Linked DNA regions of Homo sapiens: region 1 is linked to region 2. A link means that fine-mapping ties the variant in region 2 to the expression of a gene that starts in the linked region. Tissue or cell type: monocytes after Pam3CSK4. Region 2 holds a variant in brackets; the other region holds the start of a gene. All regions are shown on one strand. Distances are from middle to middle.

Evidence for each region. PIP is the estimated chance that this variant, and not a neighbour inherited with it, causes the effect.
Region 1: it holds the start of MYDGF, and the variant in region 2 is the best candidate, but not a certain one, in a credible set for the expression of MYDGF in monocytes after Pam3CSK4 (Quach 2016, PIP 0.85).

What each region holds. Positions count from the first base shown.
Region 1 is chr19:4,666,179-4,674,280 of GRCh38, reverse strand. It overlaps MYDGF (myeloid derived growth factor), which reads left to right and starts at 3,939. Exons shown (of 6, transcript NM_019107.4): 1 at 3,939-4,120; 2 at 5,636-5,686. The coding sequence starts at 3,947. RefSeq lists a silencer at 3,550-3,939.
Region 2 is chr19:5,487,612-5,495,713 of GRCh38, reverse strand. LOC124904622 (a long non-coding RNA gene) reads left to right here and starts at 8,071. Exons shown (of 2, transcript XR_007067106.1): 1 at 8,071-8,102. The variant A/G (reference allele first, on the strand shown) is at 4,965.

The DNA of each region.
Region 1 (8,102 bases), 820 kb after region 2:
GTGGCCTCCACCTGTAATCGCAGCTAATCAGGAGGCCAAGGCGAGAGGTTGGCTTGAGCCCAGGCATTTGAGATCAGCCTCAAAAAAAAAAAGGCCATGTGTGGTGGCTCACGCCTGTAATCGCAATACTTTGGGAGGCTGAGGCCAGCAGATCACTTGAACCCAGGAGTTTGAGACCAGCCTGGGCGATATGGTGAAACCCCATCTCGACTAAAAATTGAAGAATTAGCCCAGCGCAATGGTGCACGCCTGTAGTCCCAGCTACTCAGGAGGCTGCAGTGGGAGGATCACTTGAGCCCTGGAGGAGGAGGAGGTTGCAGTGAGCTGAGGAGGTTTCTCCAGCCTGGGCAACAGAGTGAGACCCTGTCTCACACAGACACACACACACACAAAAAGGAGGCCAGGCACAGTGGCTCACACCTATAATGCCAGCACTTTGGGAGGCCAAGGTGGGTGAATCATTTGAGCACAGGAGTTTGAGACTAGCCACAGCAACATGGCATAAACCCCATCACTACAAAAAAATAATAATAATAATAGCTGGGTGAGTGTTGCATGCCTTGTAATCCCAGCTACTTGGGAGGCTGAGTGGGAGGATCATTTGAGCCCAGGAGGTTAAGGCTGTAGGGAGCTGAAACTACCACTGCATTTCAGCCTGGGCGACAGAGCAAGACCTTGTCTCAAATTTAAAAAAAAAAATAAATAAATAATCTAATATTTGTGTGATCGAATCTTGTCCTTTAGGACTGACAGATTTCATATCATGATTAGTGGGATCCGTGGAATAATTTGTTGTTTGCTCCTCTGTCACCCAGGCAGGAATGCAGTGGTATAATCACAGCTTACTGCAACCTCGACCTCCTGGGCTCAAGTGATCCTCCCACCTTGGCCTCCCAAAGTGTTGAGATTACAAGAGCCACTGTGTCCAGCCTTGTTTTCTTTTCTTTTTCTTTCTTTCCTTTTTTTTTTTTTTTTTTTGGACACAGGGTTTCGCTCTGTCACCCAGGCTGGAGTGCAGTGGTGTAATCTCAGCTCACTGCAACCTCTGCTTCCATGGCTCAAGTCATCCTCTGGCCTCAGCCTCCCAAGTAAGTGGGACTACAGGCACAAGCCATCATGCCCAGCTAATGTTTTTGTATTTTTTATAGGGACGGTGTCTTGCCATCTTGCCCAGGCAGTTTTTAAACTCCTGAGCTCAAAGTGATCTGCCTCCCAAAGTACTGGGGCCAGCCTTGTTTTTTCTTTTAATCCTTTTAGTGTGATGATTTGTGGTGGGTGGGTGAAACTTGGGGCCGAAACCTTTCTGGAAAGAACACACACACGCATGCACACGCATACGCACAACCTGCCTGGGTTCCGTAGCAGACTCCCAACAGCTCACAACTGAAATTCCTTGTTAGCCGCAGAGCTCGGCCATGCATCGAATCCTTCATGGTGACAGGCTGAAAGTTGAACACCGTGGTAAGGTAATGGGGACTCCATCAGTGGAACCGTGCTGTGTCACTCACCTAAGGAACAGGGCTGCTCTGTGCTTGTCCAGTTTATGGAGACAGTGTCTCATGGGTCCAGAACAGACAGCTGCATGGAGGAAGAGATTTGTTTGTTTATTTCTTTATTTATTAAGACGGAGTCTTGCTCTGGGACCCAGGCTGGAGTGCAGTGGCATGATCTCAGCTCACCGTAACCTATGCCTCCTGGGTTCAAAAGATTCTCCTGCCCCAGCCTCCCAGGTAGCTGGGATTACAGGCGCCCACCACCATGTCCGGCTATCTTTAAAAAATAATCTTAAAATATCTTTAAATATATATATATATAAGTATATATATGAATATATGAATATATATAAGTATATATGTGAATATATGAATATATATAAGTATATATATGAATATATGAATATATATAAGTATATATATGAATATATGAATATAAGTATATATATGAATATATGAATATAAGTATATATATGAATATATGAATATAAGTATATATATATGAATATATTAATATATATATTCATATATATGAATATATATTCATATATATGAATATATGAATATATATAAGTATATATGAATATATGAATATATATATAAGTATATATGAATATATGAATATATATTCATATATATGAATATATGAATATATATTCATATATATGAATATATAAGTATATATGAATATATGAATATATAAGTATATATGAATATATGAATATATATTCACATATGTGAATATATGAATATATATTCACATATGTGAATATATGAATATATATATTCACATATGTGAATATATGAATATATATATTCACATATGTGAATATATGAATATATATATTCACATATGTGAATATATGAATATATATATTCACATATGTGAATATATGAATATATATATAGGAATGGGGTCTCACTATGTTGCCCAGAATGGTCTAGAACTCCTGAGGTCAAGCAATCCACCCACCTTGGCCTCCCGAAGGGTTGGAATTACAGGCATGAAGTATCACGCCCGGCCAATAAATTTCCTAACGCAAGCAGGTATCCCAATTTAGAACAGGCTGCCACTGCAGAAAGGCAACTGGCTTGGACTTCTGTCATTGGCAGAGGAGTCAGCCTCCACGGGGATCCTTCTCACCTCCCTGGGGCTCACCACCCTCCGTAGCTATGGAGTAGAGTGATTTAATTCCTCAAAGGGTGAATTATAACCCATCTTAGGAGTCATCTATGACGTTTTCTCTCTGGATTCTGTTTTTTGCCAGTTGGGAAGGACTAGAAACACCAGCTTAATTATTGACCCCCCAGGCCTGGCCACTGGTGTTTTCTTGAAATGTTAAGCCATTTGTAACCAAAGAATGACTTCCTTCTCTAGTTGAAAACCTGGGATCTAATGATAGCAATAGCTACAATATATAATTCTCAGTTCATTCGTCCCGGTGTGGGAACTTAATTCCCTCACTTACTCCTCCCAACAACTCCTTGAGGTAGGGATTATTTTCTTTTTAACTTTTTATTTTGAAATAATTTTTGCCTCCCAGAAAATCTGCAGAAACTGTAGGGTTTCCTAATACGCTTCATCCAACTCCCCCTAATGTGAACATCGTCTGTAACCCCTAGGACAAGCCAGGTTATCAAAGCCAGGAAGTGAACACCCACATAATCCTATTAACAAATACACAGACTGATCGAGCGTGATGACTCACACCTGTAATCCCAGCACTTTGGAAGGCCGAGGCAGGCGGATCACTTGGGGTCAGGAGCTCAAGACCAGCCTGGCCAACATGGTGAAAACCTGTCTCTACTAAAAATACAAAAATTAGCCAGGGGTGGTGGTGAACACCTGTAGTCCCAGCTACTCGGGAGGCTGAGGCAGGTGCATCACTTGAACCTGGGAGGCGGAGAGTGCAGTGAGCCGAGATCGCGCCACTGCCCTCCAGCCTGGGCAACAAGAGGGAAACAAAAGCAAGCATCCTGCTTCTCATCCTACTTTCCCTCTGCTAATTTTGAATATCGATGCACACACATCTTGGCTGCAACGATTATGAGAAGTTCGCCTAATGGTGACCTTCGATTTCCCTCACTCCCTGTACATCTCCTAACTGAAAGAGCTGCAGTCAGTCACACGGCTGGTGAGGGACCCTGAGACCCCAAAACGAACTCCATTACCACCTGAGGGACCCTCCAAGGATCGCCGGGCTACGCAGGGTCCCTAGGGTACGAGGCCGCCCCCTCGGCGGCCCCGCCCCCTCGGCGGCCCCGCCCCCTCGGCAAAAGTCCCGCCCCCTCGACAAAGTCCCGCCCCCAAGATGGTGGCCCCGGGCGGTGGACAGGGCGGGGCGTGCCGGGTCACGTGGACAGCCGACGCCGACGTGGCCTCCGGCGGACGCTCCACGTGTCCCTCGCCGCGCCCCGTCTACCCGCCCCTGCCCTGAGGACCCTAGTCCAACATGGCGGCGCCCAGCGGAGGGTGGAACGGCGTCGGCGCGAGCTTGTGGGCCGCGCTGCTCCTAGGGGCCGTGGCGCTGAGGCCGGCGGAGGCGGTGTCCGAGCCCACGACGGTGGCGTTTGACGTGCGGCCCGGCGGCGTCGTGCATTCCTTCTCCCATAACGTGGGCCCGGGGGTACGTGCCACCGCCGTCCCGGATATTTGAGTGCTGGCAGGCCCGGGGAGGGGGCGCGGAGCATTGGGGGCGGGGCCCGAGGAGGGGGCGCGGACCGCGGAGGTGGGTACTGAAGAAGGGGTGCGGATTGTTAGGGTCGGAGGCTGAGTGGGGGGCGCGGGACCGTGAGGCCGGGGTCATCACTGGGGCAGGACTGAACTCATAGGGAGCGGGGCCTTGTGGGCCCCGGCGGCGTTGAGGGGGCGTGATCACCTGTCACCTGTCGCCTGCCTGGAGTGTCCAGGCACCCCTGCCCTCCAGACGCAGAGGTGGGGAGGGGTCAGTGATGGGAGCGGCAGGAGGCTAAAGGGCATCTGCCCTCCTGGGCCTGAAGGAAATCAGTCGCTGCAGCTCCGAAGAGGGAGGAAGTGCTCCTTCCTTCCATTGCACAAGGTCCCCCCTCACCGAGGGTGTGAGGCCGGGCCCTCAGCCCTGTACTCAGCTTGTCGGCAAAGTCCTTTCCCCTCTCAGCCTCCCTTTCCCCGCCTGTAATAACAGTATCTTTACTGTTTTTTGACTATTTCTTTTTAGACTTGCGTGCAGTGGCGGGATCTCGGCTCACTGCATCCTTAGCCTTCTGGGTTCAAGCAATTCTTCTGCCTCAGCCTCCCCAGTACCTGGGATTACAGACGTGTGCCACCACACCCGGATAATTGTTGTTGTTGTTGTTTGAGATGGAGCCTCACTCTGTCGCCCAGGCTGGAGTGCAGTGGCGCGATCTTGGCTCACTGCAACCTCTGCCTCCCAGGTTCATGCCATTCTCCTGCCGCAGCCTCCCAAGTAGCTGGGACTACTAATCTTTGTATTTTTAGTACAGATGGGATTTCACCATGTTAGCCAGGCTGGTCTTGAACTCCTGACCGCAGGTGACCCGCCCACCTCGGCCTCCCAAAGTGATGGGATTACAGGCGTGAGCCACTGTGCCAGGCCAGTTTGTTGACTACTTCCTTATAGTTAGGTGTGATGCCAAGTCCTTTATATGTTAGGCCCAAGTTACAGATGAGAAAATGCTTCACATAAAAAAGAGAAACAGAGAGAAACTAGAGGCTCAGAAAAGTTTTCACTTGTCCAGGTCCCATGGCAAAACCCATCTCTACAAAAATACGAAAAATTAGCCAGGTGTGGTAGCAGGTGCCTGTAATCCCAAGTACTCAGGAGGCTGAGGCAGGAGAATCGTTTGAACCCGGGAGGCAGAAGTTGCAGTGAGCTGAGATCATCCCACTTCAGCCTGGGCGACAGAACAAGACTCTGCTTCAAAAAAAAAAAAAAAAATTAGTCGGGTGTGGTGGTTGCGTACCTATTGTCTCAGTTACTTGAGAGGCTGAGGCAAGAGGATTACTCAAACCTGGGAGTTCGAGGCTGCAGTGAGCTGTCATTGTGCCCCTGCACTCCAGCTTGGGTGACAGCAAGACCCCGTCTCTTAAACAAAATAAAAATTTCCTTCTACCAAACCTTTTTTTTCCTTCCATTCTCTAGGACAAATATACGTGTATGTTCACTTACGCCTCTCAAGGAGGGACCAATGAGGTGAGTTGTTCAAAATTCCCTCTAGCTTACTGTGACAGTATCCATTGTTGTAGGGAGATGTTCTGTAGCAGACAGCAGGGTTGGGTCTCACCTATATCACCTTACACTCATTGAATGACTCTTCCTAAACCAATAAAAAGGGAGAGTATTGGCATTAAACAGTGACGACAGATTCTGCTGTTATTATTCTACAGAGCAAGCAAATGTCTGGACAGAAGGAGGGAGGGGAGATGGGAGTCTGCCATCCCCATGAGCATCTGTTGGGATGTTGTATTTTATGTGCAGTGCAACAAGTTATCACAGCTTAGGGGCTTAAAACAGCACCCATTTATTATCTCATAGCTTTGTAGGTCAGAAGTCTGGGTCAGCTCAGTTGTGTGCTTCATAAAACCAAACTCAAGGTATTTTGGGAGGCTGAGGCGGGCAGATCACCTGAGGTCAAAGTTCGAGACCAGCCTGGCCAACATGGCAAAACCTCATCTCTACTAAAAATACAAAAATTAGCTGGGCATGGTGGCACATGCCTGTAGTCCCAGCTACTCAGGAGGCTGAGGCAGGAGAATCACTTGAACCCAGGAGACGGAGGTTGCAGTGAGCCAAGATTGTGCCACTGCACTCCAGCCTGGGCAACAGAGCGAGACTCTGTCTCAAAAAATAAATAATAAATAAATAAAGGTATCACAGGCAAGGCATGGTGGCTCATGCCCCATCTCTACAGAAAATAAAAAAATTAGCCCAGCGTGGTGGCGTGCACCTGTGGTTCCAGCTACTTGGGAGACTGAGGTGGGAGGATCGCTTGAGCCCAGGAGGTCAAGGCTGTAGTGAGCCGTGATTGTGCTACTGGGCAACAGAGCAAGACCCTGTCTCAAAAAAAAAAAAAGTCTCTGGGCTGGGAGAAGAATCCTCTCCTTCAAGCTCTTAGTTGGCAGAATTCAGTTACTTGTGGTTCAGGGACCAAGGTCCCGGTTTCCTTGCTGGCTGTTGTCTCCAGCTGGTGGCAGAAGAGCCAGTAAAGATGATTTGGGCCAGGCACAGTGGCTCATGCCTATAATCCCAGCACTTTGGGAGGCCAAGGCTGGCGAATCACCTGAAGTCAGGAGCTCCAGACCAGCCTGGCCAACATGGTGAAACCCCGTCTCTACTAAAACTACAAAAATTAGCCGGGCGAGCCAGGCGCACTGGCTCATGCCTGTAATCCCAGCACTTTGGGAGGCCGAGGCGGGTGGATCACAAGGTCAGGAGATCGAGACCATCCTGGCTAACACGGTGAAACCCCGTCTCTACTAAAAATACAAAAAATTAGCCGGGTGTTTTGGTGGGCACCTGTAGTCCCAGCTACTGGGGAGGCTGAGGCAGGAGAATGGCGTGAACCCGGGAGGCGGAGCTTGCAGCGAGCCAAGATCGCGCCACTGCACTCCATCCTGGGCGACAGAGCGAGACTCTGTCTCAAAAAAAAAAAAAAAAAAAAAAAAAGGGTGATTTGAAGCACATGGACACATACGCCACTGCTGCCCTTGAGGGAACTGCAGGGCAGGGAATACACGCGGCCTCTAGGAGCTGAGAACAGCCTCTGGCTGGCAGCAAGGAAATGAAGACTTCAGTCCCGCAACCAAGAGGAACTGAAATCTGCCACAACCACAAGAGCTTGGAAGAGGACCTTGAGCTACCAGTAAGAGCCTAGCCCGGTCAACACCTTGAGATGGGTTTCGCCATGTTGGCCAGGCTGATCTTGAACTGCTGACCTCAAATGATCAGCCTGCCTCGGCCTCCCAAAGTGCTGGGATTACAGGTGTGAGCCACCGGTGCCCGGCCTCCTAGAGATTTTTCTGTATCCTATGTAAAGCGCTTCAGTTGCATGGACGTGTGGAGTTGACAATCCCGTACTAATGGATTGAGGGTTACTTCCAACCCAGTCCGTGAATAACCTTGGCCAGGGTTCATTGTACAAGTGCAGTTACATCTGTGGGAAAACCACCCAGAAGTGGGATTCATGGGTCCATTTTCTTAAAAGTAAAACTGGGCTGGGCGCGGTGGCTCACGCCTGTAATCCCAGCACTTTGAGAGGCCAAGGCAGGTGGATCGCCTGAGGTTGGGAGTTTGAGACCAGCCTTGCTAAGATGGTGAAACCCCATCTCTACTGAAAATACAAAAGTTAGCAGGGCGTGGTGGCACGCGCCTGTAATCCCAGCTACTCAGGAGGCTGAGGCAGGAGAATCGCTTGAACCCACGAGGCAGAGGTTGCAGTGAGCTGAGATCGCACCACTGCACTCCAGCCTGGGTGACAGAGCGAGACTCCATCTCAAAAAAAAAAAAAAAAGTAAAACTGTATGTTTTGAGATCATGGTAGATTTACATTCACTTGTAAGAAATCCTACAGAGAGATCCAAGTACCGTTTAACCAGGTTCCCCGGTGGTA
Region 2 (8,102 bases):
TAATTTTTATATTTTCAGTAGAGATGGGGTTTCGCCATGTTGGCCAGGCTAGTCTCAAACTCCTGACCTCAAGTGATCCGCCTGCCTCCACCTCCCAAAGTGCTGGGATTACAGGTGTGAGCCACCGTGCCCAGCTAATTTTTGTATTTTTGTATTTATTTATTTTTGAGGCAGAGTCTTGCTCTGTCACCCAGGCTGGAGTGCAGTGGCGCGATCTCAGCTCACTGCAACCTCTGCCTCCCAGGTTCAAGAGATTCTCCTGCCTCAACCTCTCGAGTAGCTGGGACTACAGGCGCCCGCCACCACGCCTGGCTAATTTTTGTATTTTTGGTAGAGACAGCATTTCACTATGTTGGCCAGGCTGTTCTCAAACTCCTAACCTTGTGATCCGCCCGTCTCGGCCCCCCAAAGTGCTGGAATTATAGGCGTGAGCCCTGCTCCCGGCCCCAGACACCGTTTCCTTGGAGTGCCCCTCTCTGGCTCGAACCCGGGACCAGGGCCCTGCCAACAACAGGATTTTCTCTAATCGTGTCCTTTTTCATCAACAAAACCCTAATGGAAAACGCCTCCCTCTAATTCCTCAGGGAAGCAGTCATTTTTGTTTTTCTCTCATTACATAGATTGCAACAATTGAGGCACCTCCCATGTATGGTGCTGTGATTAATTCCACCTCCCGTGTTGGGGCTTCCGTGCCCCCCACGTCCCCCGTCCCCCATTGTGAGTGGATCCTGGGCAGCGGGGGTGGGAAGAACGCAATCAAGCTCAGGCGGTGGCGTTTCATTTCCTAACAATAGCAAGATTCCCCACCCAGGGACACAGGCACGTGTATCATCAAAGAAAATAAAAGCCTAGGGGTGGGATTGCAGGATCCTTTGGGGGCAAGTTTTGCACGAAATCTCTGAGACTTTGATTTCTGCCATCTCTTTATGCACCAAACCTTGGGCTTTTCATGCATTTTTTTTTTTTTTTAAGTCCGAGTCTTGCTCTTGTCGCCCAGGCTGGAGTGCAATGGCGTGATTTCGGCTTACTGCAACCTCTGCCTCCTGGGTTCAAGTGATTCTCCTGCCTCAGCCTCCCAAGTAGCTGGGATTATAGACGCCCACCCCCCTACCACGCCCAGCTAAGTTTTGTATTTTTAGTAGAGATGGGGTTTCACCATGTTGGCCAGGCTGGTCTCAAACTCCTGACCTCAGGTGATCTGCCCACCTCGGCCTCCCAAAGTGCTGGGATTACAGGCGTCAGCTGCTGCACCCGGCCTTTTTCTTTTTCTTTTTTTTTCTGAGATGGAGTCTCGCCCTGTTGTCCAGGCTGGAGTGCAGTGGCGCGATCTCGGCTCACTGCAACCTCTGCCTCTGGGGTTCAAGCTGTTCTCCTGCCTCAGCCTCCTGAGTAGCTGGGATTACAGGTGTGTGGCACCACGCCCGGCTAATTTTTTTGTAGTTTTAGTAGAGACGGGGTTGTACTATGTTGGCCAGGCTGGTCTCAAACTCCTGATCTCAAGAGATCAGCCCTCCTCGGCCTCCCAAAGTGCTGGTATTACAGGAGTGAGCTACTGTGCCTGGCCATCATCTATTTTTTTTTTTTTTAAATAGAGACAAGGTCTCACTCTGTTGCCTAGGCTGGAGTGCAGTAGCACGATCATGGCTCACTGCAGTCTTGACCTCCCAGGCTCAAGTGATCCTCCCACCTCAGCCTCCTGAGTAACTGGTACCACAGGCACACACCACAACACCTGCTGATTTTTTTTTTTTTTTTAAAGAAATAGCGTCTTGGCCGGACGTGGTGGCTCACGCCTGTAATCCCAGCACCAGCACTTTGGGAGTCCGAGGCAGGCAAATCACTTGAGGCCAGGCATTTGAGACCAGCCTGGCCAACATGGCAAAAACCTGTCTCTACTAAAAATACAAAAATTAGCCAGGCGTGGTGGCAGGTGCCTGTAAGCCCAGTTACTCAGGAGGCTGAGGCAGGAGAATCGCTGGAACCCAGGAGACAGAGGTTGCAGTGAGCCGAGATCACACCACTGCACTTCAGCCTGGGTGACAGAGGGAGACTCCATCTCAAAAAAGAAAAAGAAAAACAAGATTATTAGTATACAGAAAAGGCCGAGGACTCAGACAGAAGAGGGTCCCTCAGTCACCTGGGAATCCCTGTGGGATGACATTGGGTTGACGGCTTTTGAGCTCCATCTGGACCCTCTGACCAGCCTCTAGCCCTCTCCCCTCCTCCCTCGTCCTGGGAAGGGGCCCTAAACCAGGAGTTTGCTTCGGCAGCATTGGGTAAACTTGTGCAAACACCTTTCACTCTCTGAGCACCCCTGAATCCTCCATCCCTCCAAAGTGGGGACATAAAGGGCCGCTTCTTAGTGACAAGGCACAGAGACAGCAGGCATGTCCCTCAAGGTCACACAGCAAATCGGGGAGAGAGAGGGGAATGGGCCCCGTTGGTCTCTGCCTTCCTTCCCAAACTCTTCAGCTCGGGATGGTTGACAGCTGTCTCCCCTGGCCTGGACTTACCAGTGTCTGGCAGTCAAACTGTCAGGAAGACAGGCCAGATGAATTTGTTTTTCTGAATATCTCAATGCAGCGCCGGGAGCCAGGTCCACCCGCCCAGTGCCCGACTTCCCCGCCGCAAGCCTCCCCTCGCCCCCCACCAGCCTTTGTCAATATCTCAAAGTGGCAGGCGAAATCCCCTTCAATGGAAACCTCGGCGAATCTTTTCTTTTACCCTCAGTATTTGTTTATTTTCCTCCCTCCCTTCTCCTTCCTCCCGCATCTCAGAGAGGAAGCGATTAGATTAACGGGCAGAGGAGGACAAGAAAAGACGAACAAAGACGCCCGCCTTTTGGGCCCAGCCGCTCAGAATGGGGGATTTGCAGGCGAAGAATGTGGACGGGGGTGAAAGTGGAACGTGGAATTGAGTGGGTTGAATGGAGCGGCCGAGCAGAGGATTTTACCAGCTCAAGGGACAAAGGCGCCGGCCGCAGGGCCTCCTTGGCGAAGCCAAGCTGCCAACACCTGCTCCTTTTTCAGGAACCACAATAGGGACTTTAAACATCAGCTGCGGCCTCCAGGATCCTGACAGCGCCTGGCCCGTGGGGCTCAGCAGTCCAGGGGGTTGCAGGGACATAAAGGGCAGCAGAAGTCCCCCCCTCCGAGCCCAGGGCTGCGAGTGGGGGGCTCTGGCATCCACCAGCTTGGGTCTGAATCCCAGCTCTGCTATTCATTCATTCATTCATTCATTCATTCATTCATTCAGTGTTTCCTGAGCACCTGCTATGTGCCAGGCCTGATTCTAGGACCCCAAGGACCCAGCAGTGAATTAGCCAGAAACAAAATTCCTTGCCCCCGTGTGGCTGACCTTCAAACACACCGTGCGACCTTGGGGCTGTGGCTTTGCTGCTGTGGGCCTCGGTTTTCCACATCTGGAAATGGAATGATGTTCATGCACACCTCACGGGAAGTTAGGGTGGTCAAGCAGCCCCCAGAAAAGCCTGGGCCAGAGTGGGTGTCCCTAAGTGTTAGCTGACATTAGATGCTCTCCCCTTCGGCCTTTTTTCTTTTTGAGATGGAGGCTCACTCTGTGGCCCAGGCTGGAGTACAGTGGCATGATCTCAGCTCACTGCAACCTCCGCCTCCTGGGTTCAAGCGATTCTCCTGCCTCAGCCTCCCGAGTAGCTGGGACCACAGGCATGCACCACCACACCCAGCTAATTTTTTGTACTTTTTTCCTTTTGTAGAGATGTGGTTTCACCATGTTGCCTAGGCTGGTCGCAAACTCCTGGGCTCAAGCCATCCTCCCACCTCAGCCACCCAAAGTGTTGGGATTACAGGCGTGAGCCACCGCGCCCGGATGGCATGGCTGATATCTGGGGCTGTGTTACTCTCTGAGGTGGGGAGTGTCCTGTGCGTTTTAGGTTGTGCCACAGCATCGCTGGCCTCCACCCATTGGATACCAGCAGCACACCCCCGCTACGGAGAGGTGACAAGCACAAATACCCCCAGACATGGTCAAGTGTCCCTTGGGGGGCAGAATCACCCACAAGGAGAACCGCTGTGTTACATCACTCCCCGGCCCAAGGTTAGACTACAGGACAGACTTCCCACTGCAGCCCTCCCCCGCATCTTCTGCTGGAATCCTTTCCCTTGGCCTCCAGGGCCTTCTCTGTCGTCCAACTCCATGCCCAGCCACTGGCCCCTGAAAAACAGGGAGCCCAGCCCTGGAGCCCACCCCCATCCTCTCCCCGGCATTGGATTATCTGTTCCTGGGGTCGGACAGAATGCCTGCATCTATGTGATGTGGACATATTGGTGTCTTTGGGGGTTGGGGTGGGGAAGGGGTCAGGCTAAGGGGCTGTCCTGTCCCTTCCTCTGCTGGGGAAATCATGAGCTGAAGGCTGAGTCTCTGAGGGAGGCCTCTGTCCCTCCCCCTGGCTGGGGTGCAGGTCAGGACCTAGACTGGCAGAAGGGGGTGCTTCAGGGCAGAGAGATGGGCCATTTGAGGTCCCGATACCTTGAGATCCAGGGTGTTCCTAGTACCTCCCACCCCAATGCATGCATGCATTCATTCCTTCATTCATCAGTATTTTTATTTTTATTTATTTATTTTTTTTACTGGAGTCTCTGTTGCCCAGGCTGGAGTGCAGTGGCGCGATCTCAGCTCAGTGCAACCTCCGCCTCCTGGGCTCAAGTGATTCTCCTGTCTCAGCCTCCCGAGTAGCTGGGATTACAGGTGCATGCCACCAAGCCTGGCTAATTTTTGTGTTTTTAGTAGAGATGGGGTTTCGCTATATTGGCCAGGCTGGTCTTGAACTCCTGACCTCAAGTGATCTGCCCGCCTCGGCCTCCCAAAGTGCTGGGATTACAGGCGTGAGCCACCATGCCCGGACCCACATTCATCAATATTTACCTCCCTTTCCTGGTGCCCGAACCTGTGCTGGGCTCTGGAGAACCATCAGTGAGCACCAC[A/G]GACCTGACCCCATCCACACATGGCTCACAGTCCAGGCAGGAGGCGGACCCAGGAAAGGGTGGTTCCGACCTGGGTGATTAGAGAAAAGAGGGGGTCTCTGGGCCAGCCTGGAGGTCAGAGGAGGTGACTGAGTCTGGAAGAATAAGAAGTGGTTCATTGGGTGAAGTCAAAGCACAGGGAGGCTGAGCAAACCTTAGAAGGAGCCTTCTTGGGGCTGGGTGCGATGGCTCACACCTGTAATCCCAGCACTTTGGGAGGCTGAGGCAGGAGGCTCACTTGAGCCCAGGAGTTCGAGACCAGCCTGGGCAACATAGTGAAACCCTGTCTATACAAAAAGGTACAAAAATGAGGCATGGTGGCACATGCACCTATGGTCCCAGCTACTCTGGAGGCTGAGGTGTGAGGATCACCTGAGCCCAGGAGGTCGAGGCTGCAGTGAGTCAAGATCTTGCCACTGCACTCCAGCATGGGTGACAGAACGAGACCCTGTCTCAAAAAAAAAAAAAAAAGGAGCTTTCTGGGGAGGACGGATGGGAGGCTAGAGGCCAGGGAGGAGCCAGGAACTGGAATCCGGGCAGGAGGGGGTCCTGGGGACAGGTGGGATAGGATCTGGGGAGGGGATGAGGGCGAGAAGAGACCAGGTCGACATCTGACTTTCTGGTTCAGGGACCAGGCAGACACGGGGAGTAACCCTGAGAGGTTTGGGAGTGACACTGAGGTCAACCTGCACCCTGCTGGCTCTGATGTCCTGACAGGGGTCCCTCTGGGCTGTGGTGCTGTGGTAAACAGCAGTGGGGGAACCCTGCAGACAGTTCGTCCTGAACACCCCGACAGCCGATTGACGGGTCTTTATTAGCTGGAGAGCTGCGTGGGTTTAAAATAGCATCGTGGCAACAACAAAAGCAATCTGCCTCCTGAATTTTCATTCTGAACGGGTGATCTGCTTTTAATCAAGCAAGGCATCCCAAAATGCTCCTAATTACCCCGAGTCAAGGGCTCGGCAGTCATTTCGATGTCAGCATTCAGGCTGGCGTGATTAGATTTTCACCAAACGAGGGAGCTCGGCCAGAGCTCGATGTCAGGGTGAAGCCAGTCCTGGAATGTCCGGGGTGCCCTGATTTGGAACTGGGGGATGGAGGCTGCAGGGCGGAGACAAACCTCAGGACAGGGGAGTCGATTTCAGACTTGATCGGTGGCTTTGAAAAACCCTCTGTCCCTTTGGGGGCCTCAGTTTCCCCATCTGTACAACGTGATGATGGTGATGATGAAATGAGATAGCAATTGAAAACGTTTTTTAAATTTTTTATGGTTTTTTTTTTTTTTTTTCTGAGACAGAATCTCACTCTGTCGCCCAGGCTGGAGTGCAGTGGCGCAATCTCGGCTCACTGCAAGCTCCGCCTCCCGGGTTCAAGCAATTCTCCTGCCTCAACCTCCCGAGTAGCTGGGATTACAGGCATGCGCCACCATGCCCGGCTAATTTTGTAGTTTTAGTAGAGACGGGGTTTCTCCATGTTGGTCAGGCTGGTCTCGAACTCCCAACCTCAGGTGATCCACCCACCTTGGCCTCCCAAAGTGCTGGGATTACAGGCGTGAGTCACCGTGCCTGACCCAAAGGTGCATCTTATATTTGACGGCATCTCAGAGCCCGTGGAATACAGTGACAAGTAGGTATGTGGCAGGGTGTGTTAGAAGGTGAGAAATGCTATGGAAGGAAAAAAGAAAAGATGATGCTTTCAGGCTGGGCGCAGTGGCTCACGCCTGTAATCCCAACACTTTGGGAGGCGGAGGCAGGCAGATCACCTGAGGTCAGGAGTTTGAGACAAGCCTGGCCAACACGGTGAAACCTCATCTCTGTGAAAATACAAAAATTAGCTGGGTGTGGTGGTGCACACCTGTGATCCCAGCTACTTGGGAGGCTGAGGCAGGAGAATTGCTTGAACCGGGGAAGCAGAGGTTGCAGTGAGCCGAGGTGGCACCACTGCACTCCAGCCTGACGTGCAGGGCAAGACTGTGTCTAAAAAAAAAAAACAACAACAAAAAAAAAAAACAGAAGCTAAGGGGCAGTTCTGGGTGTCTGGGATATAAAATCCCCCCACGATGGCAAGTACACAGCGGCTCGTGCCTATAATCCCAGCACTTTGGGAAGCTGAGTGGAAGGATGACTTCAGGTCAGGAGTTTGAAACCAGCCTGGGCAACGTAAAGGTGTGTCTTTTTTTTTTTTCCCGGCAGAACACATCTCTGCAAAAAATTTAAACATTAGCCAGGTAGGCCGGGCGTGGTGGCTCATGCCTGTAATCCCAGCACTTTGGGAGGCGGAGGCAGGCAGATCACCTGAGGTCAGGAGTTTGAGATAAGCCTGGCCAACACGGTGAAACCTCATCTCCGTGAAAATACAAAAATTAGCTGGGTGTGGTGGTGCACACCTGTGATCCCAGCTACTCGGGAGGCTGAAGCTGGAGAATGGTGTGAACCCGGGAGGCAGAACTTGCAGTGAGCCGAGATTGCGCCACTGCACTCCAGCCTGGGCGACAGAGCAAGACTCCATCTCAAAAATAAATAAATACATAAATAAATATAATCCCAGCACTTTGGGAGGCTGAGGTGGGCGGATCACGAGGTCAGGAGATCGAGACCATCCTGGCTAACACGGTGAAACCCTGTCTCTATTAAAAATATAAAATACAAAAAATTAGCTGGTGTGGTGGCGGGCGCCTGTAGTCCCAGCTACTTGGGAGGCTGAGGCAGGAGAATGGCGTGAACCCAGGAGGTGGAGCTTGCAGTGAGTCGAGATTGCGCCACTGCACTCCAGCCTGGGCGACAGAGTGAGACTCTGTCTAAAAAAAAAAAAAAAAAAAAAAAAAAGAAAATTAGCCAGGTATGGTGGTGCACATCTGCAGTCCCAGCGACCCAGGAAGCTGAGGCAGGAGGATCACTTGAGATTGGGAGTTCGAGGCTTCAGTGAGCTATGATCGTGCCGTTGTACTACTCCAGCCTGGGTGACAGAGCAAGACCTTGTCTCTTAAAAAAAAAAAAAAGAGAGAGAGAAATCTTCCCCCATGTAATAATGGTGAGATCATAGAAGGAACTGGAAGCATGGGGATGGTGGCTCTATGAGGCTACTCTGGGGAGCTACTAG